7 linked regions of the Homo sapiens genome follow. The protein of the gene in region 4 purifies or fractionates together with the protein of the main gene of each other region. This does not show direct contact. Each region holds a gene or a part of one and is shown on either strand. Other genes may lie near its edges.

Evidence for each region.
Region 1: the proteins of NOM1 (region 4) and LRRTM4 purify together in Homo sapiens (co-immunoprecipitation; one large-scale study listed by IntAct). This does not show direct contact.
Region 2: the proteins of NOM1 (region 4) and LIN28B purify together in Homo sapiens (co-immunoprecipitation; one large-scale study listed by IntAct). This does not show direct contact.
Region 3: the proteins of NOM1 (region 4) and RNF10 purify together in Homo sapiens (co-immunoprecipitation; one large-scale study listed by IntAct). This does not show direct contact.
Region 5: the proteins of NOM1 (region 4) and LRRTM3 purify together in Homo sapiens (co-immunoprecipitation; one large-scale study listed by IntAct). This does not show direct contact.
Region 6: the proteins of NOM1 (region 4) and CACTIN purify together in Homo sapiens (affinity purification with mass spectrometry; one large-scale study listed by BioGRID and IntAct). This does not show direct contact.
Region 7: the proteins of NOM1 (region 4) and RNF220 purify together in Homo sapiens (affinity purification with mass spectrometry; one large-scale study listed by BioGRID and IntAct). This does not show direct contact.

Annotation. Positions count from the first base shown.
Region 1 is NC_000002.12:77,519,577-77,523,875, forward strand, and holds the start of LRRTM4 (leucine-rich repeat transmembrane neuronal protein 4 isoform a precursor), read right to left. Parts: upstream 2,801-4,299; 5' UTR 2,540-2,800; coding exon of another isoform or gene 2,533-2,539; intron 2,243-2,532; 5' UTR 2,096-2,242; coding exon 2,092-2,095; intron 289-2,091; coding exon 1-288. UniProt on the Homo sapiens protein: May play a role in the development and maintenance of the vertebrate nervous system. Exhibits strong synaptogenic activity, restricted to excitatory presynaptic differentiation.
Region 2 is NC_000006.12:105,072,107-105,075,606, forward strand, and holds part of LIN28B (protein lin-28 homolog B), read left to right. Parts: intron 1-3,500. UniProt on the Homo sapiens protein: Suppressor of microRNA (miRNA) biogenesis, including that of let-7 and possibly of miR107, miR-143 and miR-200c.
Region 3 is NC_000012.12:120,540,856-120,544,355, reverse strand, and holds part of RNF10 (E3 ubiquitin-protein ligase RNF10), read right to left. Parts: intron 1-3,500. UniProt on the Homo sapiens protein: E3 ubiquitin-protein ligase that catalyzes monoubiquitination of 40S ribosomal proteins RPS2/us5 and RPS3/us3 in response to ribosome stalling.
Region 4 is NC_000007.14:156,948,545-156,952,511, forward strand, and holds the start of NOM1 (nucleolar MIF4G domain-containing protein 1), read left to right. Parts: upstream 1-1,167; 5' UTR 1,168-1,193; coding exon 1,194-2,180; intron 2,181-3,926; coding exon of another isoform or gene 3,927-3,929; coding exon 3,930-3,967. UniProt on the Homo sapiens protein: Plays a role in targeting PPP1CA to the nucleolus.
Region 5 is NC_000010.11:67,099,544-67,102,051, reverse strand, and holds the end of LRRTM3 (leucine-rich repeat transmembrane neuronal protein 3 precursor), read right to left. Parts: 3' UTR 501-2,508; downstream 1-500. UniProt on the Homo sapiens protein: Exhibits a limited synaptogenic activity in vitro, restricted to excitatory presynaptic differentiation. May play a role in the development and maintenance of the vertebrate nervous system.
Region 6 is NC_000019.10:3,610,145-3,613,467, reverse strand, and holds the end of CACTIN (splicing factor Cactin), read left to right. Parts: coding exon 1-4; exon of another isoform or gene 5-102; coding exon 103-410; exon of another isoform or gene 411-683; intron 684-1,054; coding exon 1,055-1,545; 3' UTR 1,546-2,823; downstream 2,824-3,323. UniProt on the Homo sapiens protein: Plays a role in pre-mRNA splicing by facilitating excision of a subset of introns. Required for the splicing of CDCA5/Sororin, a regulator of sister chromatid cohesion. Involved in the regulation of innate immune response.
Region 7 is NC_000001.11:44,404,073-44,408,054, forward strand, and holds the start of RNF220 (E3 ubiquitin-protein ligase RNF220), read left to right. Parts: upstream 1-1,182; 5' UTR 1,183-1,458; intron 1,459-2,719; exon of another isoform or gene 2,720-3,009; intron 3,010-3,362; exon of another isoform or gene 3,363-3,442; intron 3,443-3,982. UniProt on the Homo sapiens protein: E3 ubiquitin-protein ligase that promotes the ubiquitination and proteasomal degradation of SIN3B. Independently of its E3 ligase activity, acts as a CTNNB1 stabilizer through USP7-mediated deubiquitination of CTNNB1 promoting Wnt signaling.

The sequences.
Region 1 (4,299 bases), on a different chromosome or scaffold from region 4:
TAATGTAATTATGGTCAAGATAAAGCCATATAAGCTGGTTAAGGCCGGCAAACTGATTGGATTTGAGCTTCTGAATGCTGTTGAACCTTAATGATAAGCCTTGTGACCCTCCAGAAATGTTCTCAGGGATATCTGCGAAAGCATGAGACTCACAGTACACAATTTTGCCATCACATCTGCAGTTCTTTGGGCAAGCTCTCTGAGCACCCGTGAGCATAACAAGCAGCAGTGTAGGAAGTAGCACCAGCACCACACTCATGCCTTTCAGCTGCGTAATTAAATGGAAACCTACGATATTAAAAAAAAGACAGATGCACATTGTGAAGCTATTAAAATAAATCACCGTCGGTTTACCAACAACAGGGGCATTTCCTCTAGTGTAGGAATGGGACAGTTGATTTAAGGAAAATGCATTAACATTTCGAGCATTATTTTCTTCAGTGTTGCATGTTTGCTGCTTAGGTTTCACTTTTTCTTCCTTGATCTTCAAATCACCACAGTCCCATAGAATTAAGAAAAGCCTTTTTGAGTTTCAGGAGTTCCTACTTATTTCAACATTGAAAAGCACAGAGCCTTTCTCACCACTGAATGCTGACATTTTAGTAACAATAATATTTGGCTAACCACTGTATTGAACAACAGTACCAAAAGGAAGTGTACTATGTGCTCTGGTAAGGGCAAAAATGTGACTTAGTAAACCTGGTACCTGTACGTGTTTCCCAGTTGAGCAAACAGGCTGTGATTTGGCAAAAGAGCTTCAGTAAGCTGTCAAGGTAACCCAAGTTTGCCCTGCCTGAAATTGTGTACTTATTGCATAATAGGATCGCAATATGTGAGCTCTGAAAAAACAGCATTGAGACTAGTATAGGCAGCCAATGAAGCATTGGATGAAGACTAATAACGGTACGAGGTGCTCTCAAGTTGTTAATAAGCATAGATTATTGCATACTGTGGCTCCCTGCCCAACGATACAGGAGCTAAGACATCTAAATACTCATAACAGAGAACACTCCAAAGTTAAGACTATCAAAATTCGTATTATTTGCCTAAAAAGCAAAATAATATTGTGTAGTATCACTTTGCCATTATTTTAGAGTTGTTTTTGCAAATTCGAAGGATAAACAAGGAAAGAAGCAGCCAACTACTATTTTTCTCTACATCACCCTGATCTCTTCACATTTCTCACTGACTTTTTTCTCCCCTATCTCCATTAACTTCAGAAAGCCTGCAAAGTTACAATCTATTGGCACTTACACTGCATTTCCAAGTCATTGCATGTTAAGGGACTTCTTTCCTCCGTCAACAGTAGATTTATTATTTCTTAATGGAGAGAAAAAAAAAGAAACAACTACCATGTGTTGCAGTTTCTTTTTTTTTCTTAAATTTTTAAATTTTTAACCAAGAGGCAATCAACCAAATCCCTAATCTAAAACCCATCCTTCTTCTCAAACAGTTAAGTTTTTCTTTTTTTTCTTTTTAATTTAAAACCCGATCTTGCTCTCTGTCCTCTTGCCAGCTACAGACTCATTGAAATACATTCCAGCTCTCCCAGACAGGAGAAAGGGGGGGAAAAAAGCCAGTCACACTCGAAAAAATAAGACTGGCAAATGACTGCTGGAAATTCGGAAGCTGTGTTCAGGATCCAGCTTCAAAGATAAAACAAGCCCTTGTGCAACCTCTGATAAAGTAAGGACCCCACCCCTACATACACGCAGCAAAGTGTTAATAGTCATCCTGACAGCTACCAGAAACACAAGCCTCGTTAATATTATCAAGAAATAGAAGCAAACACAGTATTTATCTCCTTCTGAATTCCCAAGCTGTGGATACGCAGACAGTAGAAACAGTCTTAAAGATATTTCTCTAGAGTCTGTTTAAGTTCGTGTTGTGCATTTATAGATTAAAAAAAAAACACTGCAAAAAGGAAAATGATCTAAAAATATAATAGCAACTATAGTGAATCAACTGGCAAACTCAAAGGCTGCTGCTCTTTGCCTGTTTCCCCGTCTTTTATCTGCTAATGCCACGACTGAGGATAGGAAGCCAAGAGGATCAGCTTTGCTCAGAAGGAAACAACAAAAGTTCACTTACCCATCCTTTGTCATCCAAAAACGTTTCCCCCCTCTCTCAGCTTTCTTCTTATTTGGTCTCTTGTGCGGAAACCACCACCACCTTCATGACACAGTGCGGCTGTCATTCACACCATTCTGATCCCGCATGTGAGCTAGTAGCCCCATACAAACTTCCCCGAGAGGACAGGCAAAAAAAAAAAAAAAAAATACATATATATATATACATATATATATATATATAAAAAATCAGCACAGGGTGGGATGGTTGTGGGGGCAGGGAAAAGGAAGCCGTTGGGGGGATAGGGATGGGGGAGGGCCTCTAGGCTCTGAGGACCATTGTGTAATTCACCAGAGACCCATCAGCAGTAATTGGCAATCTGTGCAAAAGAGCTACAGCCCATCTCGGAGGTAACCAACTTCTCTGTAAAAAGAGAGGAAAAAAAGAAAATCTTCAGAATACCTGGCATTCCTTATTGTGCTGGCTTTTGCCATTCCCAGATAAAGCAATTCATCCTCTGGATTTTCAGTTCTTGAAGCAAGTAGGCCTCCTGTGCTGTATGAGACCCCAGTTTAAAAGCTATGCAGGCTAGGTTTATCCATTTAGCTGGTCAGGTTTAAAGTGTTTTGTAGCTGTGCTGGGAGGCAGCCCTTGTCTAATTCAGAAGGCTTTCCAGAGACTGATGATGCTCAGAGCTTGTTGGTGCTAATGCTTGAGTTTGTGATACACTGAGTGCCCTCCGCTGGAGAAAACAGATTGCACATTAAAGACGGGAACAAGTGAGCCTGTCAGTGGTGTGCAGCCTTCCCTTGCTCAGAAAGGGAAATTAAAGGCACAGAATCACTATTTTTTTCTCTCCAATAATTTAAAAGGTTTATGCCAAGGAGTTCCTTTCAGTTATAGCAAATATTAAGTAAAATACTGCTTCTCTAAATGTTATGCAATTAATAGTTTTTCAAAGTTGCCATGACCTGAAATTTGTTTTTTCTGCACGTCACTGGAGATTTATCATCTTTTGCAAATGACAGAAATTGTTGAAATTTAAGTTTTATTCACTGTTGCTGTTGGTTTGTTTTATTTATTTATATTGTTTTAAACTAACCGCTTATGGAAGAAATCTTATTCAAGGGAAAAATGCAATTTTAATCAATTTTAAACAGGTTACATTTAACATGTTTAAGTCTGATTTTCAAATTCTCAACCTTTGACATAAAATGCATTTTACAATTTTGTGCATTTTATTGAACAGTCTAGAACACTACTTTCTAAAAGTTTACATTTTTAGTCTTAAAGCAGTTATAATCTATAGTATATTACCAAATGTGAAGGTAACTAAGAGATAAGAGTAGAATTCTAGCTTGACATTCTTAGTGCAGCCATTATCCTTAAATCATCTACATTTAGAATGCAAATCATTTCTTATGCAAATCACTTATTGTAATGTGCAATTCCAGAAAAACAAAAGCACTTGAGTTCTGCATTATCATGGTATTACTCTAAAATGTGCAGAATATCCTCAGAATTAGAAGGGATGACATGATAAAACACCTGATATATATATAATTTAAAAGGACCTACACACTTTCTTTAAGCTTGGACAGACGTTGAAAAACATAGTGCATCACCTCCATTTTTTCCTCATTTTTACTAGTTTATTCCATAATCCTCTGGCAGATAACAATTTTTAGAATAATCCAGGAGAATGAATCAATGTAATGCAGGGAGAGACTGCTAGGTAAGACTGCTAACCTAATTTAGCAGACGTGAGAAATTTAAATGAATTTCACATAAGCATTTAGAATTGCTGTGGATCATCGCAAATAGATATTTTTAGAAAGAGCCTTGGTTTTAGATTGTTTGCCAAAATATTAATAATTAAGGGGGCTTATCATATAAATAACACATATAATTTGACTCAGATGTATGAGTAGGCAGTTGCAGGCAATTGTCTCATTACTAAGATTTCTTGAGGAACAGAAAGGAATAATATGTCCCCCAAATATATTCCTTTTCCACTAACTGATACTTGAATTTCTATCTTAGAAATGTGTGCCTTTGGCTTAAGGCTTAATACCTATTAAAATGCAAATGCACGCCAAAAGAGGCAGGATTATTGTGGTTGCTGAAAATAAGTATATCAATATAAATGTACACATACGATTTGTTCATAGTGGTGTAGTTTAATATAGAAACACAAAACCCACCCAAATATCAATGGTAGAGGATGAG
Region 2 (3,500 bases), on a different chromosome or scaffold from region 4:
TGTATTAGTGTTTTAAATTCAAGATCCTAGATATTTTAGACTTACATATAATAAAATTACATCAATATTGTTGGGTATAACATTTTTATGTAATCAAAATGGAAGTGAAATTTAATTGCTTTCAATTAAAATTCCTTTCTAGATAATCTCTAAATTTCTTCATCAATACAATTTAGATATTGTAGTTCCCAATTCATAGGCTTTGGGGGTGGATTAAATTATATAACACATTAAAAACCTTTAGCACAGTGTCTAGAATTTAGTAAGCTCTCAGTGAATTGAACCTGTTTATTATTTCTGTTATTACCATTTTAATTCTCTTAAAAGTAAAAGTATGTTTAGTCCTTCTGTATATAGAATATTTTGTTTTTAGCATGATTAAGGTAACAGAGGGGCATGATGCTGGCTTCTATATTCCAGAAGATCCAAATGAAAACTTTTCTGGTGTTAAATGTGTATTTATTATCTAGGAAACTTTTTAAAAGAACATAAATCATCAGTATCACCAACTAACTATTTTTGAAAACTCAGTGTTTTTACCACTGTACTTAGAATATATAAAAATTTAAGTATGGAAAACATACTTAAATAAAAATTAACTTTACTAAAATTGTTATTGTTTAACTGGCTTACAATCTTATGAATTTGGTTATGAGAAGAATGAAATAAAAGAAACTAATTCATTAAAGTATAGGTTGATAGAGGTCAGAAGACATGTACACTATTAAAGAGACTTACTAGTTCTGTGACTCATCAAAGTTTCCTAACTCCTCTCTTGGTATTTTGGGGCTAGTCCTGTGGAGTGAGTAAACAATACCCAAATGTTTATTTAGATTGTGTAGAATCAGTCAGAACAAAATGGGGCCTTCTTTAGGAAGGTTGGTTCCAGGATCTGCCCCTCTTACCTTCAGGAGGTGTACAGGGTAGGCAGATTGCTTCCATCAATATGCTCTGGATCCTTTGCTTGTCAGCTCTCTGTGGTTCTCTAATAACCTTTCTGCCCACCCACCTCCCCACCACCAGCTGGCTGTGATCCAGCACTTCCATGTGTTCAGTTGATTGGCACACAATTTTAATTAAATAACAAGTATTAAAACATACTAGAATAAAAAATAATAGAGCTGAGGAATGTTATTAGTATCATTTCTGGATTTTAGTTGGACTGTACCAAGGTTTAAAATGATCTCTTCAAAGAATCAGTTATTTTTCCTTCAGTTTAGTTCCTGTAATTTTTTTCAATCTGTGACTTTTCTTTAGCCCCTCTGCCTCCCATTTGGAAACTTTATTAATCCTTTTTTTAGTCCGTTTTTCCCAGGAATTTTTATGAAATTCCTTTTCTGTATTCGTACCTTCTTCCTGCCCAAAGCTTGCACTTCTTTCTCTACTCTTTTCTCTGTCCCTGATACTGCTTTACGTACTATCTTTCAACAATTCCTTCCCCTTCAGAAGCTTACAGATCACTGTCAAAATTATCCTTAATGCCCCCATCAGACCCTCAGAATGTGGATTTGAGTTTACATATAAATTCTTATTAACTTAAAATGTTCAAGTACTGTGAAGAATCCTAAGATACATTTTTTTCCATTATACTTTTAGACAAGCAAATCTGGATCTTCCTCTGTGGTATCGCCCCTCTTCCCAATTTTTTTCATCACTCTCAGGATCGAGAGGGAATATATAACTGATGAATATTTTCATTTACACCATTGGAATATTATTTAAAAATTAATGTCTATATTTTAACCTAGTGGTTGTCCGCTGTGCTCAGCTCCATTATTGCTGATATCATTTGAAAATATAATCTGCTTATTCAGTTGTTTGGATCAAAAAATGCAAACATTTTTAATGGTCATAGCAGATCTAAATTCTGATTTCTGAATTAGTTTTCATTTTTTGATGAAATCCTCAGAAATTTGGGTATGTTTTGATTAACTTATTAACTAGTGTAGGTGTTTGGACTTGATTTTTAAAAACTCATGTAATTACTTCAGAATATAATTAAATAGTTCTAAAGGTCTAAACAATTTGTTTTTATTTATTTAACCATCATAAGTGCCTCTATTCTATCCATTGTTGCCATTCTTTCATTTAAAATCTTTTCTTTTTTTTGAGACAGAGTCTCGCTCTGTCGCCCAGGCTGGAGTGCAGTGGTGCAATCTCAGCTCACTGCAAACTCCGCCTCCTGGGTTCACGCCATTCTCCTGCCTCAGCCTCCCAAGTAGCTGGGACTACAGGCCCCCGCCACCATGCCCGGCTAATTTTTTGTTATTTTTAGCAGAGACAGGGTTTCACCATGTTAGCCAAGATGGTCTCGATCTCCTGACCTCGTGATCTGCCCACCTCGGCCTCCCAAAGTGCTGGGATTACAGGCGTGAGCCACCGCGTCAGGCCTTAAAATCTGAAATTATAAATCTTATTTTGATAGTGTCTCAAAAATGTTGACTTTGATTTGATTGTTAATTATCTTCTATCTTTAAACGCTCCTTAAATAAGAAATAATACTTGTAGAATATGCTAGCTCATTAGAATTACAGTATTTATAAAATGATTTTATGAAGAACTTGATAACCGTCTAAGATTAAACTGAACATTTTTGTTTATTTTATCTTTGTTTGTTAAAACAGAGTCTAGCCCTGTTGCCCAGGCTGGAATGCAGTGAATCAATCTTGGCTCACTGCAGCCTCTGCCTCCCTGGATCAAGCAATTCTCCTGCCCCAGCCTCCTGAGTAGCTGGAACTACAGGTGTGCCCCGCCACACCTGGCTAATTTTTTGTATTTTTAGTAGAGACAGGGTTTTGCCATGTTGGCCAGGCTGGTCTCAAACTCCTGACCTCAAGTGATCTGTCCGCCTCAGCCTCCCAGAAGTGCTGGGATTACAGGCATGAGCCACTGCACTTGGCCTATTTTATCTTATTTGTAATGCATGAGAAAATATCCTTTGTGCCATTGGTTCAGCATTTAATAAAGTACTTAGCATGAATAATTTTATTTTTTATGTTGGACTATGGGAATATATAATAAAGTATGAGTATAGTTTTCTTTGTATGGTCTTTTGTGTGAGACTATGTCCTTATATTTCTTAAGCATATAGCTAAAAATGGACACACATGATATTTTTATGCTCACATCACAATGTAAAATTCATTCCAACTACAAAGGCAAACTGATGTGGAACAGTGTGGAGGGTGAACAAAGGGGACTAAAATCATGTATAGCTTGTATGGAGTATATAGTTGTGGTATAATTTGTGAGCTGCAAGGTAGCTGAACATTTCTATTTTGGTGTCAGTCCCTTGGGAAGGAAGGGGTTTCATAATGGAGAGTGATCTGTACTCTTAGTAAGAGTGATTGACACTGAATGATTAAATAGAAGAGAATATAAATACCACTCCTCCCCCTTTTAAGGCTAAGCACATAGACACTAAATGCAAATCTTTTCAATGTGGAAGAAAGTCTGGCCTAATGATAGCACATATCAGGAAAGCCAAGGGGGTGAATTAA
Region 3 (3,500 bases), on a different chromosome or scaffold from region 4:
TAGAGTTGGGGTCTCACTTTGTTACCCTGATTGGTTTCCAACTCCTGGACTCAAGCAATCCTGCCTCGGCCTTCCAAACTGTTAGGATTAAAGGCATGAACCACCATGCCTGGTTTATCTTTTTTTTGTTTTTAACAGTCTCACTCTATTGCCCAGGCTGGAGTGCAGTGGCGCAATCTCGGCTCACTGCAACCTCTACCTCCCGGGTTCCAGCAATTCTCCTGCCTTGGCCTCCCAAGTAGCTAGGATTACAGGCATGAGCCACCACGCCTGGCTAATTCTGTATTTTTAGTAGAGATGGAGTTTCGCCACATTGGCCAGGCTGGTCTCGACCTCCTGACCTCAAGTGATCCACTCACCTCGGCCTCCCAAAGTACTGGGATTACAGGCATGAGCCACCATGCCCAGCATGTTTTATTCCCCCAGGGTGGAAAGCAGTGGTGCCATCATAGCACACTGCAGCCTCAACCTCAGCTTAGCATCTTTCCAACTCAGCCTCCCAGCTAGGACTGCAGGTGTGCACCACCACACCCAGCTAATTTTTAAATTTATTTTGAGACAGGATCTTACTTTTGTCACCCAGGCTGGAGTGCAGTGGCATGATCTCGGCTTACTGCAGCCTCCAACTCCTGGGTTCAAGCAATCCTCCTGCCTCAGCCCCCCAAGTAGCTGGGACTCCAGGCATATACACCATTCTTGGCTTAATTTATATTTTTGATATAGACGGGGTTTTGCCATGTTGCCCAGATGGGTCTCAAACTCCTGAGCTCAAGCGATCCACCAGCCTCAGCCTCCCAAAGTGCTGGGATTACAGGCGTGAGCCATCAGGCCCGACCTAATTTTTAAATTTTTTTGTGCAGACGGGGGTCTCACTATGTTGCCCAGGCTGGTCTCAAACTCCTGGGCTCAGGCGATCCTCCAGGCTCAGGTGATCTTCCCACCTCAGCCTCCCAAAGTGCTGGGATTATAAGCATGAGCCATGGGGTCTGGCCCCACTTTTATCTTATTACAATGATTCTCAATCTTGCCAGTTCATAGGAATCACACAGATGAGCTTTTACGGAATTCCTATGCTCAGGCCTCACCCTCTAAGATTCTGATATAACTATACTAAAGTACCTGTCTGCAGACCTGTAATATTATCTGAGTAATTTTTTTTAAACTTAGAAAAAATTATTTCTTGGTAAGTACAATCACCAGCTTTTTATAGCAGGCTAAATAAATTCAAGGTTAAACAATGCCTCAGAAAGAAGAAAATGTAAGTTAATAAATCAGAGACCAAATTTTGAAAGCAACCACTTCACGCCCATAGTCTGTCAACCTCACTGTATAAATGAGATGTCATTCTCTCCAAACCTGACCACCTAAAACCTGGGAGTCAATCTAAACCATGTGAAATGGCAGCAATGTAAACAGAACAGTCACAGAAACAGGCTAGGTTCACTCCTACCAGTTACCCTTAAATCCTGCTTACGGACAGTGACCCTTACCTTAGTTACAATTTAAGGCCAGGCATGGTGGCTCCCTGTAATCCCAGCACTTTGGGAGGCCAAGGCAGGCAGATCACATGAGGCCAGAAGTTCGAGACCAGCCTGGCCAACATGGTGAAGCCCCATCTTTACTAGAAATACAAACATTAGCCAGGTGTGGTGCCACACGCCTGTAATCCCAGCTACTTGGGAGGCTAAGGCATGAGAATCATTTGAACCCGGGAGGCAGAGGTTGCAGTGAGCTGAAATCACGCCACTGCACTCCAGCCTGGGCAGCAGAGTGAGACTCTGTCTCAAAAAACAAATAAATAAAGTTAGAACTTAAAAACTAAACTTTTACCTATTACTTCAGTTAGCAACAGTTAGTGTCAAACATGGCACTAGTAGTAACAATTAGAAAGCAAAGTTTCAGCGCTGGACTTGGTGGCTCATGCCGGTTGTCTCAACACTTTGGGAAGCCAAAGCAAGAGGATCACTTGAGTCCACGAGTTTGCGACCAGCCTGGGCAACATAGCAAGACCCCATCTCTACAAAAAATTTAAAAATTAGCCCAATGTGGTGGCACACACCTGCAGTCCTAGCTGAGAGGCTGAGTTGGAAGGATTGCTTAAGCCAAGGTTGAGGCTGCGGTGTGCTATGATGGCACCACTGCTCTCCACCCTGGGCTACAGAGTGAGCCTCTGTCTCAAAAAAAGAAAAAGGCCAGGCACGGTGGCTCACGCCTGTAATCCCAGCACTTTGGGATGCTGAGGCGGGTGGATCACGAGGTCAGGAGATCAAGACCATCCTGGCTAACATGGTGAAACCCTGTCTCTACTAAAAATACAAAAAATTAACCAGGCGTGGTGGCGGGAGCCTGTAGTCCCAGCTACTCAGGAGGCTGAGGCAGGAGAACGGTGTGAACCTGGGAGGCGGGGCTTGCAGTGAGCCAAGATTGCACCACTGCACTCCAGCCTGGGAGACACAGTGAGACTCCATCTCAAAAAAAAAAAGAAAAAGATAAACCAGGCACAGTGGTTCAAGAGTTCAAGGATCTCTTAAGCCAAGGAGTTCAAGGTTTCAGTCAGTTATGTTTGCACCACTGCATGCCAGCCTAAGTGACAGAGCGAGAGCTTGTCTCTAAAAAAAAAAAAGCCAGGCACGATGGCTCATGCTTGTAATCCCAGCACTTTGGGAGGCCAAGGCAGGTGGATCACGAAGTCAGGAGATAGAGACCATCCTGGCTAACATGGTGAAACCCCATCTCTACTAAAAATACAAAAAATTAGCCAGGCTTGGTGGCGGGCGCCTGTAGTCCCAGCTGCTCGGGAGGCTGAGGCAGGAGAATGGCGTGAACCCGGGAGGCGGGGCTAGCAGTGAGCGGAGATCGTGCCACTGCATTCCAGTCTGGGCGACAGAGTGAGACTCCGTCTCAAAAAAAAAAAAAAAGGAAAACTCAGGGGATGCAGAACCCCAGCTAACTCAGCCACATTCTCTTGCTTTGCTTTCCTTAACTCCATTTCACATCACCTCAAGCAAAGGAGATTCTACGAGGATAGGTATATAAAGAAAACACATATCCTCCAACCTCATTATCCAAGACTGTTTCAGATGATCCTGGACCCTACCTGTTTGACCCTAACTGCTGCTTTCAAGATGCACCTCACGGTTTGCATAGATTTAGGTAAAGCCAGATTCTACATGGCAAGGGCTTATTAAGAAAGTAAAATGGCCAGACACGGTGGCTCATGCCTATAATCCCAATGCTTTGGGAGGCCGAGGCGGGCGGATCACCTGAGGTCGGGAGTTCGAGACCAGCCTGACCAACATGGAGAAACCCCGTCTCTACTAAAAATACAAAAAATTAGCTGGGCATGGTGGCGCATGCCTGTAATCCCAGCTACTCCGGGGGCTGAGGCAGGAGAATAGCTTGAACCCGGGAGGTGGAGGTTGCGGCAAGGCCGAGACTGCACCACTACACTCCAGCCTGGGCAACAAGAGCAAAACTCTGTCTCAAAAAAAAAAAAAAAA
Region 4 (3,967 bases):
GGCTTGCCTGTAATCCCAGCACTTTGGTCCGCCATTGCACTCCGGCCTGGGCAACAGAGTGAGACTCGGTCTCAAGAAAAAAAAAAGAAAAAAAATTAAATTAAATTAAATTAAGTCAAGGGTGGGAACTCTGTGGAAATGAAGCTTCTGAAGCTGTCCGGGAAGAGAAGCGGCCCCTGGTCAGGCCGAGAACCCCACAGCAGCAGCCCCGTCTTCCCCCAGCTCACTGCTAGGCGAGGCTGCTCCTGCGCCTCCGGGCTTCCCAAAAATCCAGACGCAAACTGCGCGGCCTCTGCGTTCGCTTCCCGGTTCAAGTTACCCAGTAAAGAGGAACCTCAAACGCTCTGCCCTCGGGGCCCAGCGTCCAAACCCAGCCTGGGCAGGGCCGGCTCCTCAGGGGTCCTCGGCCGCCTGGGGGCCACAGGCGTCTCCCTGGTCCGTATCCAGAGCCTGCTTCTCAGGAGAACGCTGGCTCTGGGGCCAGTCCTAACCCACGAGGGCTCCTCTCGACCACATCTGCAAAGGCCCTATTTCCAAATAAGGTCGCATTCCTGGGTCCTGGGCGGACACGAACCTGGGGCCCGCGCATCCCAGCGTCGTCGCCGCCGCCAACCTCCGGCACCGCGCCGACCCGCGCGGAGTCTCCCCTCCATCATACGCGAGGATTTCCCTTTGGAGTCTCGCTCTGTCGCCCAGGCTGGAGTGCAATGGCGCCATTTCGGCTCACTGCAACCTCCGCCTCCGTGGTTCAAGCGATTCTCCTGCCTCAGCCTCCGAGTAGCTGGGATTACAGGCGCGTGCCCCCACGCTCAGCTAATTTTTGTAGGGGGGTGGGTGGGTTTCACCAGGTTGGCCAGGCTGGTCTCGAACTCCTGACTTCAGGTGATCCACCCGTCTCGGCCTCCCAAAGTGCTGGGATTACAGGCGTGAGCCACCGCGCCCGGCCGGATTTCCCTTTTAAATGTGAAGGCACCTCCATGCTCATCGCGAGCCTGACGTCCACGCGGCGCCCACCCGCGGGCGCGCCTGCCCCGGGCGCCACCTGCCCGGCTGCCCCCGCACCCGGCTCCGCGCAGCTCTGCACGCTGTCGCCCTCCGGCCAGCAGGGGGCGCCGCCCGCCCGCCCCGCGCAGCCGCCTCTTCCCCGGAAGTCCCGCCTCGGCCGGAAGTCGTGCGTCCACGCGTTTCGAAAGATGGCGGCGTCCAGGAGCGCGGGAGAGGCCGGCCCGGGCGGCTCCCAGGGACGCGTGGTCCGCATGAAGCGCAGAGGCGGGCGCGGGCCGCGCCGCGGTCCTGCTGGCGGTGGGGAGAAGGCCCTGAAGAGGCTGAAGCTAGCGGTGGAGGAGTTCGTGCACGCGACTTCGGAAGGCGAGGCTCCCGGGGGTTGCGAGGGGCGCGGCGCCCCGGTGAGCTTTCGCCCGGGAGGGAGAAAAAGCCGTAAGGAACTGAGGAAGGAGAAGCGGCACCTGCGGAAAGCACGCCGGCTGCAGAGGACGGCGGGCCCCGAACAGGGTCCCGGCCTGGGAGGCCGAAGCGGAGCCGAAGAAGCCAGCGGTCACCGGCAGGACACGGAGGAGCGCGCCCGCCCAGCCCCTAGTCGGGACCCCTCGCCTCCCAGGAAGCCGCGGCCGTCCCGGGTCAAGGCCAAGGCCACGGCCGCCACCGCAAAGACCAGACCCTCCGCAGCCGCCACCGCCGCTGCCCGGAAACGGGCGCTTTTAGCGGCGAACGAGGAGGAGGACCGAGAGATCCGAAAGCTGGAGCGTTGCCTCGGTTTGAACAAGCGCAAAAAGAAGGACGGCAGCAGCTCCGTGCCGCTGAGCTTTGCACGCGACGGTCTTGACTATATTCTGGGAGCCCTGGAGTCTGGGAAAAATAGCGGCTTGTACGACAGCAGTGGTGAGGAGGAGGAAGATGCCGGACAGACACTCCCCGAAAGTGACTTAGAGAGTGACTCCCAGGACGAAAGTGAGGAGGAGGAGGAGGGAGACGTAGAAAAGGAAAAGAAGGCGCAGGAAGCAGAAGCGCAGAGCGAGGACGACGACGAGGATACAGAAGAGGAACAGGGGGAAGAAAAGGAAAAGGGAGCGCAGGAGAAAAGGAGGGGGAAGAGAGTCCGTTTTGCAGAAGATGAAGAAAAGAGTGAAAATTCCTCGGAGGACGGTGACATAACGGATAAGGTATCGTGTGAACACTCTCTAGGCCCTCTGGGATTTCCTTCAAAATAACGGGACAGGGAATGGGGCGTGAGGCAGAAATGACACAGACTTGGTGTCTTGATAATGGTTTCAGCTGAATGTGAGTAAATCGAGTACGTTACTCTATTCGGTCTTCTTTCATGTTTTTAAATTTTCATAATGTAAAGTTTAGGAGAAAAGCAATATAGAGACATTTTTATCCCGGGGACTTAAGGGCCATTTCCACAGTGCAGCATCTTCATTCTGTGTTTACCAGCCCAGGTCTCTAAACCTGTTAACCCTACCTCATCTGTTAAGGCCTCTTTCGAGTATCCGAGGACATCTGCCGTGCCCGACTTTTAGAGTGAATTTTCTAAAACTCGAAGCTAATTTACAGCACTCCCTTAGATAAAGTCCAACATTGAATTAAAGATAAAGGCTGAGGCGGGGCAGATCATTTGAGGTCAGGTGTTTGAGACCAGCCTGGCTAACGTGGTGAAACCCCGTCATTACTAAAAATACAAAAAACAGCCGGGCGTGGTGGCAGGCGCCTGTAATCCCAGCTACTTGGGAAGCTGAGGCTTGAACCAGGGAGGCAGAGGTTGCACTGAGCCGAGATCGCGCTACTGCACTCTAGCCTGGGCGAGAGAGCCAGACTCTGTTTCAAAGAAAAAAAAAAGTTCAGAATCTAGGACGTAGCAATCAAGGCATTCATGGGCTGTCATCTTGCATATTTTATCTCAGCGTTCCTTTGCATGTAGCTCATGGTTGGAGGCAGCTGTGTGGAATTGCCTGCATTTCCTTCTCCCCACATCGCACTAGTTCTATGTATGTAAATATTCAGCTTCTATGTATACAAATATTCTTTATTGAACCAGGTTTAAACTACCTAGCAGTGAGGATCGTGCCTTGCAAATGTTTGTGTCCTTAATGATTTGCAAACACCACCACCCCCCTTGATAATTTAGGAAATAGCAGTGAGTTGGTTTTGATTTTTTTTTTTTGAGACTGAGTCTTGCACTGTCGTCTAGGCTGGAGTAGAGTGGTGCAGTCTCCGCCCACTGCAAGCTCCGCCTCCCAGGTTCATGCCATTCTCCTGCCTCATCTCCCAAGTAGCTGGGACTACAGGCGCCCACCACCATGCCCGGCTAATTTTTTGTATTTTCAGTAGAGATGGGGTTTCACTGTGTTAGCCAGGATGGTCTTGATCTCCTGACCTCGTGATCCGCCCGCCTCAGCGTCCCAAAGTGCTGGGATTACCGACATGAGCCACCGTGCCCGGCCGGTTTTGATTTTTATCATATAAACTTAGATATTACTTTTAAACAAGTTTGAAATTGTTTTTAGGACACTTTCCCTCCAAAATTAGCGGTTTGTTTAATTTAGGTTCTTGTATGCTACTGTGCCTGCAGTAAGTTAAGGCCGAGCAAAAGCGCAGTAGATAGGGCTCTGTTGGAGTTGAGCAGATACCAGAGGTGCACAGCTGGGTCTGAAGAGCTACACAGGGGAAAACGAGATGGTGAAATGTATTATTAATAGCATTAATGGGAATAGTGACAGGCACAGCCTGGTGAGTGGAATGTTTACCCATATACTAAGCACTCAATAAATCTGATGTATTTAAGCAGCAATGATCAGTAGCAGCTTCCACCAGTTCTTGGAAGTTTAATATTTAAATACACATATGGCAAAGAAAAAACACAGGATTTGGTCAGTGTAAATTTTTTGTAATTTATTTCTCTTTTCAAGCAGAGTCTTTGTGGAAGTGGTGAAAAGTACATCCCACCTCA
Region 5 (2,508 bases), on a different chromosome or scaffold from region 4:
CTGTGCCAATATAAGATGTTATTATATCTATTCTGGAAAATTTTCACCTTTTCTCCTGAGGCCAAATACCTGCCAGTCCCATAACTTCTTCTTTCGCATGCTCTGACATACCCAGAACATCTGCATTTCTTTTATACAGTTGAATAACAACAATTCACATCAGGTATTGGTTTTCATGAATTCAATTTCTTATTTTGAGTGTTTAGTTTGAGAGATGATATCTGTCTTCTAGTCAGGAACAATCAAAAACAAATATATTTTTACTCTCATATACAATAGTTTTATTTTAGAAAATTTTTTTTTCAAAAAGATTTTACTATTTCTAAGCAGTCAATGGAGTCAGAGAGATCTGAGTTCAAAATAGGATTATGTGATTAGTCTTGAGTGTTAAATTTGGGAATGTTTTCTTTCCTTGTAAAAATGTAATTTGTATTAATCTGTATAGTTTTGTGGTTTTCCAAAACATTCAGGAGGGACTAGAAATAGAGACTTGACAAAAATGAGTTGATCAGTAAAATATATTATTTGCAAGTTAGCATATGTTTTAGGTTCTATACATCAATTTGGATAAATTATATTTTATTTTTCTTATAAGAAAATGGAGAAAATTGTTCTCTATTATTACAAGTAAAAAAAATTTCATGGTTTAAGAAGAAATCTTGCCAAAAGAAAAAAAGAAAAAGAATTTTATGTAAGTCTTCCCAATTAGCTCCGAATTGAACATGTGTTCAGTTGACAAAGTGTTGAACATGTGTTCAACCCTGTACTATGGATCTCTTTTATAATTATGCAGTCTCAATTTAGAAGGTCTTTGGTTTTTTCCTTGGGGTTTCTTTCCTTGTGCTTCCTTGATTTTATGTCTGTACCTCGGGGCCTACATGCATCCACATCTTGGGAGCATCTGTTCTGCACATTCACAAACGAACTTGTATGTTAAGAAATATGTGACTTGTTAAACTTTTTGAACAGAGTTTTAATGTGAGAGCCCAGAGTAGAACACAGAAATAATTCAGTTAGCTAATATTTTACAGATGGAGAATTGAATTAAAATAGGGATTACTAAACAACATGTCAAATATATATAGATATATATTCTTTCATTCTATCCATTATCTCTGGAAGTTCTCTTGCTCTGATCAGAGAAAGAAATCTTTTAGTACAGTGGAAAGACTAACAGCCTGTAAATTTTGAGAATAATTCAACTGCACCAATTATTGGCCCTGTGTTTTGGGGTAAGAGCTCAATTTCTTTGAGATTAATGTGTCTTCATAGGGTTGTTATGAAGACAAAATGAGATAATTTATGTAAAATGTGGTTTGTGAACTTCAAAACACTGCATAACTTTATGGTTTGCTGCAGCTGCTGGCTGTTATTGTAACCATGCTGGGTGAAACTTTCCATTTTTCAGCTCCAAACATAAGTAAACATTTCAGTTGTTTAAATCGGTGAGGAATAGACAGGAAGGGAGACATAGGAATGGGGGTTAGAAGGAGGAAATGGGAGATTATCAAATGCTGGAAAAGATAGGTTAGAAATGCAAGTTTTAGACAAAAACTGAAATAAATTGGAAATATGTGATAAAGATTCCAGACACAGTCTTTCAGATTGTCACCACCCTCACCCTTAACCTGGACATGGCAAAATAAAAATTAAGCAAAAATAATAATAATCATCATCCAGCATTTTTTTTCTTGCTAAAGACCCTTTTGGTTGAATTTAAAGATGAGAAGTCTCAAAATTCCTGGCGTATTTGGTGTAGCTTAGGGCCTTGGTTGCACAGAGCTGTGGTTCCAAGGTGATTGCTTCTATTTATAGTCGTTCACTTTAGATGAATTTAAAATATTTAAGAAAGAAAGTGGTTTCCTTCAGGAAATCAAGGGCATACACTTGTAAGACTCCTTGGAACCTTAACATTTCTAAAAATCATTATCAATTTGAATGTGTCTAGAAATAGGTTTATTAGTAGATAAACCTATTTATTAACAAATATGTTAATTTGTGCTTGTTTACACAAATTAATTCTTCTTTTTCTATCTTTGCAAGGATAACTTCTAATGAGAAAACTTGCAAATGACATTTTGGTTTACATAATAAATAAAATTTTGCATTTGATTTTAGACTCACGAATCATAGCTTTATAACCCTTTATAAATTTGCTAACGACGTAAAGCCAAATTTCAATGTAGAGAATTAAGAATAAGAATAATACATTGCAAGGAAATTAGAAAATGGAAAACATAAAGATTAAAATTAGATTTAAAATGACAAAAATTTTTGAAGAGCAAATAATTTATGCAAAATATGTTACAAAATCTGGGATGCTAAATAGTTGACACAAGTACTGTGTTTGACATTTAGTTTCATTTGAATTAGTAATAGAATTTGCTTCTTCCAACATTTACATCTTTTTTCTTTCTGACTTTATATATTTTCAACAAAAATTTGCTCCACAGTTTTTAAGTTCATTCTTCTTGAATCCGCTTTTACATTTGCTGTGACAAACCTGCA
Region 6 (3,323 bases), on a different chromosome or scaffold from region 4:
GCAGGTAGGCCCGGCCGGCACCCCGGGGACGCCGATGCAGACGCGGAGCAGGATGGAGGGGCCGTGGGCAGCCTCCGCGCCTCCAACGCTCTCTCCTCCCAGCCTGGAGCCTGAGGACGCGGCGCCCACCCCGCCCGGGCCCTCCTCGGAGGGCGGCCCCGCGGAGGCCGAGGTGGACGGCGCGACCCCGACAGAGGGCGACGGCGACGGGGACGGTGAGGGCGAGGGCGAGGGCGAGGCGGTGCTCATGGAGGAGGACCTGATCCAGCAGAGCCTGGACGACTACGACGCCGGCAGGTACAGCCCGCGGCTGCTCACGGCGCACGAGCTGCCACTGGACGCGCACGTGCTGGAACCGGATGAGGACCTGCAGCGCCTGCAGCTCTCGCGCCAGCAGCTCCAGGTCACGGGTAAGGGCGGGGCTGGAGGCCAGGGGGTGGGGCCAGTGGGGCGAGCTGGGGGCGGGGCTTCTCCAGCCTCATTTCCCGGCCGAAGCCGCTGGCGTCAGTGGGGAGCTGCTTGCTGCTTCTCCCCCGGGTCTCTGAGCGTGCATTCCGTCACCTGCACGCGCACTGGGGCGTTCCTTCATTCATCCTGGGCTTGCTGGCCCACTGGCCTTGGGGCCACAGGTGGTGGAAGCTTTTACCGGCCGCTGTCCGAGCACTCCCTGGGCAGCCTCCGTCCTAAGACAGAGGAGAAAATACTGGCTTCAGAAAACCCCTGGGCCAGGACCCCCTCGGGGGTCATGCGTGGGGCTGGATCCCGCAGCCAGGCCCTAACCACCAGGTTCTCCTGTCGCTCGGCGGGGAAGCGCGCTGCGCTTGGTCCCCACCCAGGAGGACGATAGACATGAAGACCAAGGTCCGGGGCTCGGGGCGGATGGTGTGGGTCTCCGGGTCGCCCAGGCCCTGTCCCCTCCCCATGTGCCTTAGCTCGCCCCAGCCTGTTTTCCTTTTGCGGGAGGCACCAGCGGCCGCCCCTGCCAGAGAGGCTAGGAGGGAGGCCAGGACCCAGGGGGAGGCCGAGGCCCGGGTGAACGCCGTCCCGCCCGCAGGAGACGCCAGCGAGAGCGCCGAGGACATCTTCTTCCGGCGGGCCAAGGAGGGCATGGGCCAGGACGAGGCGCAGTTCAGCGTGGAGATGCCACTCACCGGCAAGGCCTACCTGTGGGCCGACAAGTACCGGCCACGCAAGCCGCGCTTCTTCAACCGCGTGCACACGGGCTTCGAGTGGAACAAGTACAACCAGACGCACTACGACTTTGACAACCCACCGCCCAAGATCGTGCAGGGATACAAGTTCAACATCTTCTACCCCGACCTCATCGACAAGCGCTCCACGCCCGAGTACTTCCTGGAGGCCTGCGCCGACAACAAGGATTTCGCCATCCTGCGCTTCCACGCGGGGCCGCCCTACGAGGACATCGCTTTCAAGATCGTCAACCGCGAGTGGGAATACTCGCACCGCCACGGCTTCCGCTGCCAGTTTGCCAACGGCATCTTCCAGCTGTGGTTTCACTTCAAGCGCTACCGCTATCGGCGGTGACGGCCCTGGGGAACGGCAGGCAGGTGTCCTCGGGGGCACAGTAAAGGGGCTTCGGTGAAGCTGGTGGTCACTCCGGGGCCGCTGTCTGGGCTGCAGGGCCGCGGGTTCACGTCCCACCTCAGGCCGCATCTTTCTTTCGCCAGGCCTCAGTTTCCTCCTATATAAAAGGGGGGTCACCATTGAGCCTGCCATGGTGAGCTGAGGAGACACTGGGACAGGCTGGCCTAGGGTCCTGATGCAACGGAGGGGGCGCTAGGGGCATCTTTCGAGCACGAGGGTGGCCAGCAGCCGCCAGCTGACCTCACCGTCCAGGCGGACACTCTCCACCGCCCCTCAGCCAGGCTGGGTGGGGCCCACAGGGCCTGCCCCAAGTGGCGGCCACACAGGGTGTTGTGGAGATGGGCCAGAGGGGCCTGGGCTTGGCGGTGCCAGGCTCGTGAGAAGCAGGAAACTCAAGGCCAGCCCTGCCACATCACGGGGCACCCACTGGGCGTGAGGCAGAGCCCGCGGCTGTGGGGCAGCTCCAGCCCTGCCCACAGGCCACCCTCGCCCGCACAGGCAGCACTGAGGCCGGGACCCTGCTGGCGCCCGATCCGCCACTGCAGAAGAGACCCTCTGTGGACACCCACACTCTGCAGGGACTGGCCCCCAACTCACCCCGTGCTGGCTGGTGGGGTCCATTTCCCCGCAGCGGGTATGGAGGATGCGTCGAGGTCCCTGTCTCTGTCAAGGTCGTGGGAACCAAAAGTCACTGAGCCGTCCTCCCCCCACCTCTGAGCACAGGGCCTGGAGGGCAGGGGCTCCCCGAAGGCTGGGGGTTGGAGAAGGGTGAGGGGCTTCCCCCAGGGATCCCCCCACCTGGCCTGCTCACGGGGCCTTGGAGCATGAGACCAGTGACCCCGAGTTTTGCCCATATCAGGACAGTGGCTCCTTCTCACTCCCCTTTCTCAGGCCAGGAGGGCCGAGGGCCACACGGGTGCCACAGCCCAGGTCGGAGTGGCCCAGCCGGCAGGCTTGTTCTTCAGCATCCGACGGGAACATCTCCAACAGAAGCAAAACGGAAAGTGCCTCCCGGACCCCCAGAGGGCCACCCAACCTCACCAGTCACCAGCCCCAGACCACCCACAGCCCCTCCCAGACACCCCGCCTCATCTGGAAATAGTTCCGTTTGTTTCTCTAAAAAGACTTGTAGGTGGGAAAAAAAATCTTTTGTTCTCATGGAATTGGCCTATTGGCAAGATCGCATGTTTTTTTAATAAACGTTGTATTTTAGAATAATCTTAGGTTTGCAGAAATGCAGAGAGTGTAACGTGTCCGACGCCCCACACCCGCTGCCCTAGTTGCTGCTGGCATTTGTGACACAGCGCATTTGTCCCAAGGGAAGAGCCTGGGAAACAACACGGCACCCAACTGGGGCCCGGTGGTCCCTTGGGAGCTGTGTTAGTGCCCGGATCTGTCTTTGCCCCCCACCCCTCTGCCTTGCCTCCCACAGTGGGGGTGACAGTCCATTTCCCAGACGACAGGAGGGAGGGTACAAGGGTGGACACAGCTGCTGGCCTGGGCCCAGGCTCTCATGGGGGCAGCGCTTGGCCATGCCTGGGGGCATTCGTGGTGGTCCCACCTTGGGGCTGCTCCTGGCGTGGAGTGAGTGGAGGCCAGGGATGCTGCCCAATGTGCTTCAGTGCCCAGGATGAGCCTCCCCAAATGTCCTCACTGCAGTAGGCAGAGGTGCAAGGCAGATCCTGCACTCCCCTGGGGCACTGGTCACCTCCCAGCCC
Region 7 (3,982 bases), on a different chromosome or scaffold from region 4:
CAGGCTGGAGTGCAATGGTGTGATCTCGGCTCACTGCAACTTCCGCCTCCCGGGTTCAAGCGATTCTCCTGCCTTGGCCTCCTGAGTAGCTGGGATTACAGGCGCATGCCACCACGCCCGGCTACTTTTTGTATTTTTAGTAGAGACAGGGTTTCACCATGTTTGTCAGGCTGGTCTTGAACTCCTGACCTCTTGTTCCGCCCGCCTCGGCCTCCCAAAGTGTTGGCATTGCAGGCGTGAGCCACCGCGCCCGGCCAGGAATGACTTCTTAAACCAGGATTTGATTTTGGTTGAACTTTGCTTTCAGAACTAGAACTACCTGCTATCCAAGACTTGTTAACCACGTTTTCATGGGCAAATTACAAAACCCTTTCAACCCCAGTTTCCTCTTCTATAAACTAGTGGTAATATTATTATCTCCAGAATTAATCTTAGGAGTAAATGAAATTATGTAAAGGCATTTAGTCTCATAACCGGGCTCCTAGAAAGCACTCAGGAATGTTAGTTCTCTATCCATTTCCCCTGTTTATCTTTGTGTTTGATGAATTATAGGATGATATGAAATGATCTGAAATGAACTGTAATATAAACATCAATAAAACACCAATAAAAAATTTTATTCTCACATCTGGATGCTATACTAGGCCTTCACCTCCTCCAAAAGTTACAGTTTTATTAATATTCATTTATTATTTATTATTATAGTCAAAGACCCAGAGAAGCATTCCAGGAACAAAGCAGCAGGTAAGATTTTTCTGGGAAAAGACAGAGATTTTGAGGGACCCAGGATTTGGGGGTCATTTAAGCAGCAGTGGATGTCAGTCTTCAAGCTTTGCCCATTTACTCTTGGTCCCTTTTGGTTCAGGAAAGGAAGAACAACAAGCACGAAACCATTCACTGAGACCTTTGCGGGTGGGGGAGGAGGGATGTAAACAAAAGCCAACGCTCTCTTTAGTTCACAATGGCTCGCGACCCCAAGACTTCCAAGCTCTTTGGTGAGGGCCAGCAGGTCTGTTCTCCAGGAGTGCCCTGGGTCTGGACTTCATTTCCCAGAGTCCCTTAGTGCCCTAATGTATTCAGTGCTCAGAGTGCCTGTATGTGTGTGAGTGTGAGAGAATGTGTGCGTGCGTGTGTGTGTGCGCGCGTGTGTGTGTCTCCGAGTCCCTGGGAGAGTGGAGGCTCATTCACTGATTAGATCCAGCGCTGAGAGGCAGCACTGCTCCTTCTCTCACGCCAACTGAGTCTCTTGATCTGTACATGCAATCCCAGGCAGCTCGCGAACACAAACCCGGGGCCAGCCGCCTACTGCTGCTGCTGCTGCTGCCGCTGCCGCCGCCGCCGCCGCCGCTGCCTCCGCCGGCTCTGCGAACCCGGGACTTTTCATGCACCACACTCTCCGCCTGCTTCCCTCCGTGTCCTGAAAAGTGCGACCGTTCTCCCAAGGAATTTCCACGGCAAGTATGGAGATCAGAAAGGGGTGTGGACGTGTGTGCGTACCCAAGAGGGGTGGGTGCGAGGGCGGCCGGCTTGTTCAGGAACCTGGCTAACTTTCCGGGTCCGTTTCCTAGGGATTCGGGCGGTTCCCTCTGGACGGGGGCAGGGACTGGGACTCGGACTGGCGCGTCTTGGATCATCGCGACGGAGCCTCTCGGCATCGGCGCCCTGCGCGCTCCGTGCGCTGCCTCGCTCAAACTTTCCGTCTTGAGTTTTCCTTAATGTGTTTTATTTGGGGAGGGGGGGAGGTGCAAGGGGGAGGGACCAGACGCGGGAATTGGACAAGTTGGGAGGGTGAGGGCACTGCAAGGGAAGGGAGCAGGACTTCTTTTCTCCGTCTCTTAATAAGCCCCATTCCCACTTTGTTCGGGTCGATATCGAGAATGCCTTCTCGCCGGGCTCTCTGGTGCACCCCCCGGTGATTTCCGGGCTCCCCTATGTACCCCGCGTTGATTTCCGGCGAGGCCAGGGCTGGGTGGTACTCAGTGGGGAGCCCGAGGCGGCGGGCGGATGGAGAAGGGGCGAGCCGAATGAGAAACTACCCCGACAGCCTCCACCCCACACACAGCCGGCTCCGCGGGATACCCGGGGAGTGGCTGTTTAGCCCTGGACCCCGGGTGCTCGGCTGACTTTTTCCTAGCGGGGGCGGGTGTGAAGGGTGTGGAGGGAGGGAGGTGGGGTAGGATGGATGGATCCTCTGCGGGCAGGAAGGAGGCAGGTGCTAGCATAGAGGCGGACCGTTCTAAACGCCACCGGTAAACTCCCCACTCCTCTGGGCTGGACCGGCCTGGCCGTAGAGTAGCCCGACACGTGGGATCTCCCGGGATTTTCGGGGTCGGGACCCCCTCTCCCAGCGGTTCTACTGAGCAAGGCGGGAGGACGATCGTGGAGACGAGGGCTACTTGACTACTCTACTTGTAGTTTTATTTTTATCTTAGACCTGCCTTAAACTGAGTAACAATTTCTCTTCTGACTTAAGAACAAAACTTTTCAGTGAGCACGCCGGTCGCTGCGGTCCTGCGGCCACTGCCGCCGCGCTTGTCAGCCCGGGCCGAGCGACCTTCTCTGCCCGGAACCCAGCCCCGCCACCGCACTCCGGAGCCTCCGGCCTCCCCCACCCCACCCCCGCCCCCCAACCCGGGGCTTTTCAGGGCTCGGCCTGGGCGTTTCGCCTTTGTGCTTTGTAAGAGAAAGCCTTTTCTTCCAGGGCACAACAAACTTGGGCGGAGAGCTTCCGTGTGGCCCCCCGGGCGAGGCCGCCCACGGTGGTGAGGCCATCCGAGGGGATGCCCGGTTCATCCCCCAGTCCAGGAGCCTCTCCGAGAGCTCGCGGCCCAGGTCGACCCCAGCTGGCGAGGGCGCGCAGGAGTCCCGAAGTAGCGGGGACTAGGGCAGCCAGGAGGCAGGGGGAAAGCTCTCGCTTCCCGTTAAGCACACCCTGCATTCTCGGGTCGTGGATGCAGCTCCAGCGGAGAGCCCGTGTTCCGGCCCTGAGCCAGGCGCGCGTCGCACTGGGTGGGTGCATGGGGCCCGGGCCATAGGTGTGGGGGCACAGCCCTACCTGGCCGGCCCGGGTCGTCTGGGGTCTGCGCCGGCCCACTGGCCCGGGAGCCGCCGAGGGGGAGAGCACCGCACTCGCTGCCCACGACGCCCAGCAGCCACATCTTGCCTCTCGCCTCCGCTCCGGACTCGGCTTGAGGGGCAAAGGGGAGAGAAAGGAAAAATAAAGAAAAAAAAGGGCGGCAGTGAGGAAGCAGCGAGGGGACTGGGGGGAGCAGAGTGGGCAGGGGGGCTTTGCCTTGCCTGGCCTCCTCTTTCCGTCTCGCGGGCTCTTCCTGCAAAGGGGAATGAGCAGAGGGGGGAAAGGCAGAAAGAGCGTCGAGGAAGAGCGGTGCTGGCGTCTTCCGTGCCGATCCCTCCTGGCCCGCAGAGACCCGGCAAAAGTGGCGTGAGTTCGCTTGCTGCGCTTCGAGGCAAGGCTGGGGAAGGCCGAGGACGGGGCGGCGCCGCGTCGCGCCGCTGGTGGCCGACAGGGCCGGGGCCGGGCGCGGAGCGAGCGGGGACACACACCTGTTCTGCGAGCCGCGCGGTGTGCGGCGGCCGGACGGCCGCGGTGCGGGCCGCAGAACCCTCCCTCCCGCACTGCGCATCCGCAGTCCAGGAGCTGGAAGGGCCCGGCAGCCCCGCGCCGGTCCGTATTTGCAGGAGAAGCGGGAGTGGAGGAGTCCGCGGCTGCCCGCTGAAGCGGTGGTGCGCGCGGCGGCGGGACCCGGGTGACCCCCGGGGCGGGGCTGCTCGGGGGCTGGAGGTCCTTGGACTTTGGTCGAAGGCTGGCAGCTCTGAGCCCCTGCCCCGCGGGCCCCGCGCGGCTGCGGACCAGGGGCCCTTGCACGTGTCGGTTCTTCCTGGACTGGCGCTTTGGTTGCCCAAAGTTGGGCGCAGATTGTTTCGTGCGGAGGTTGTTGGGACCCAGAGTATTCTATATACA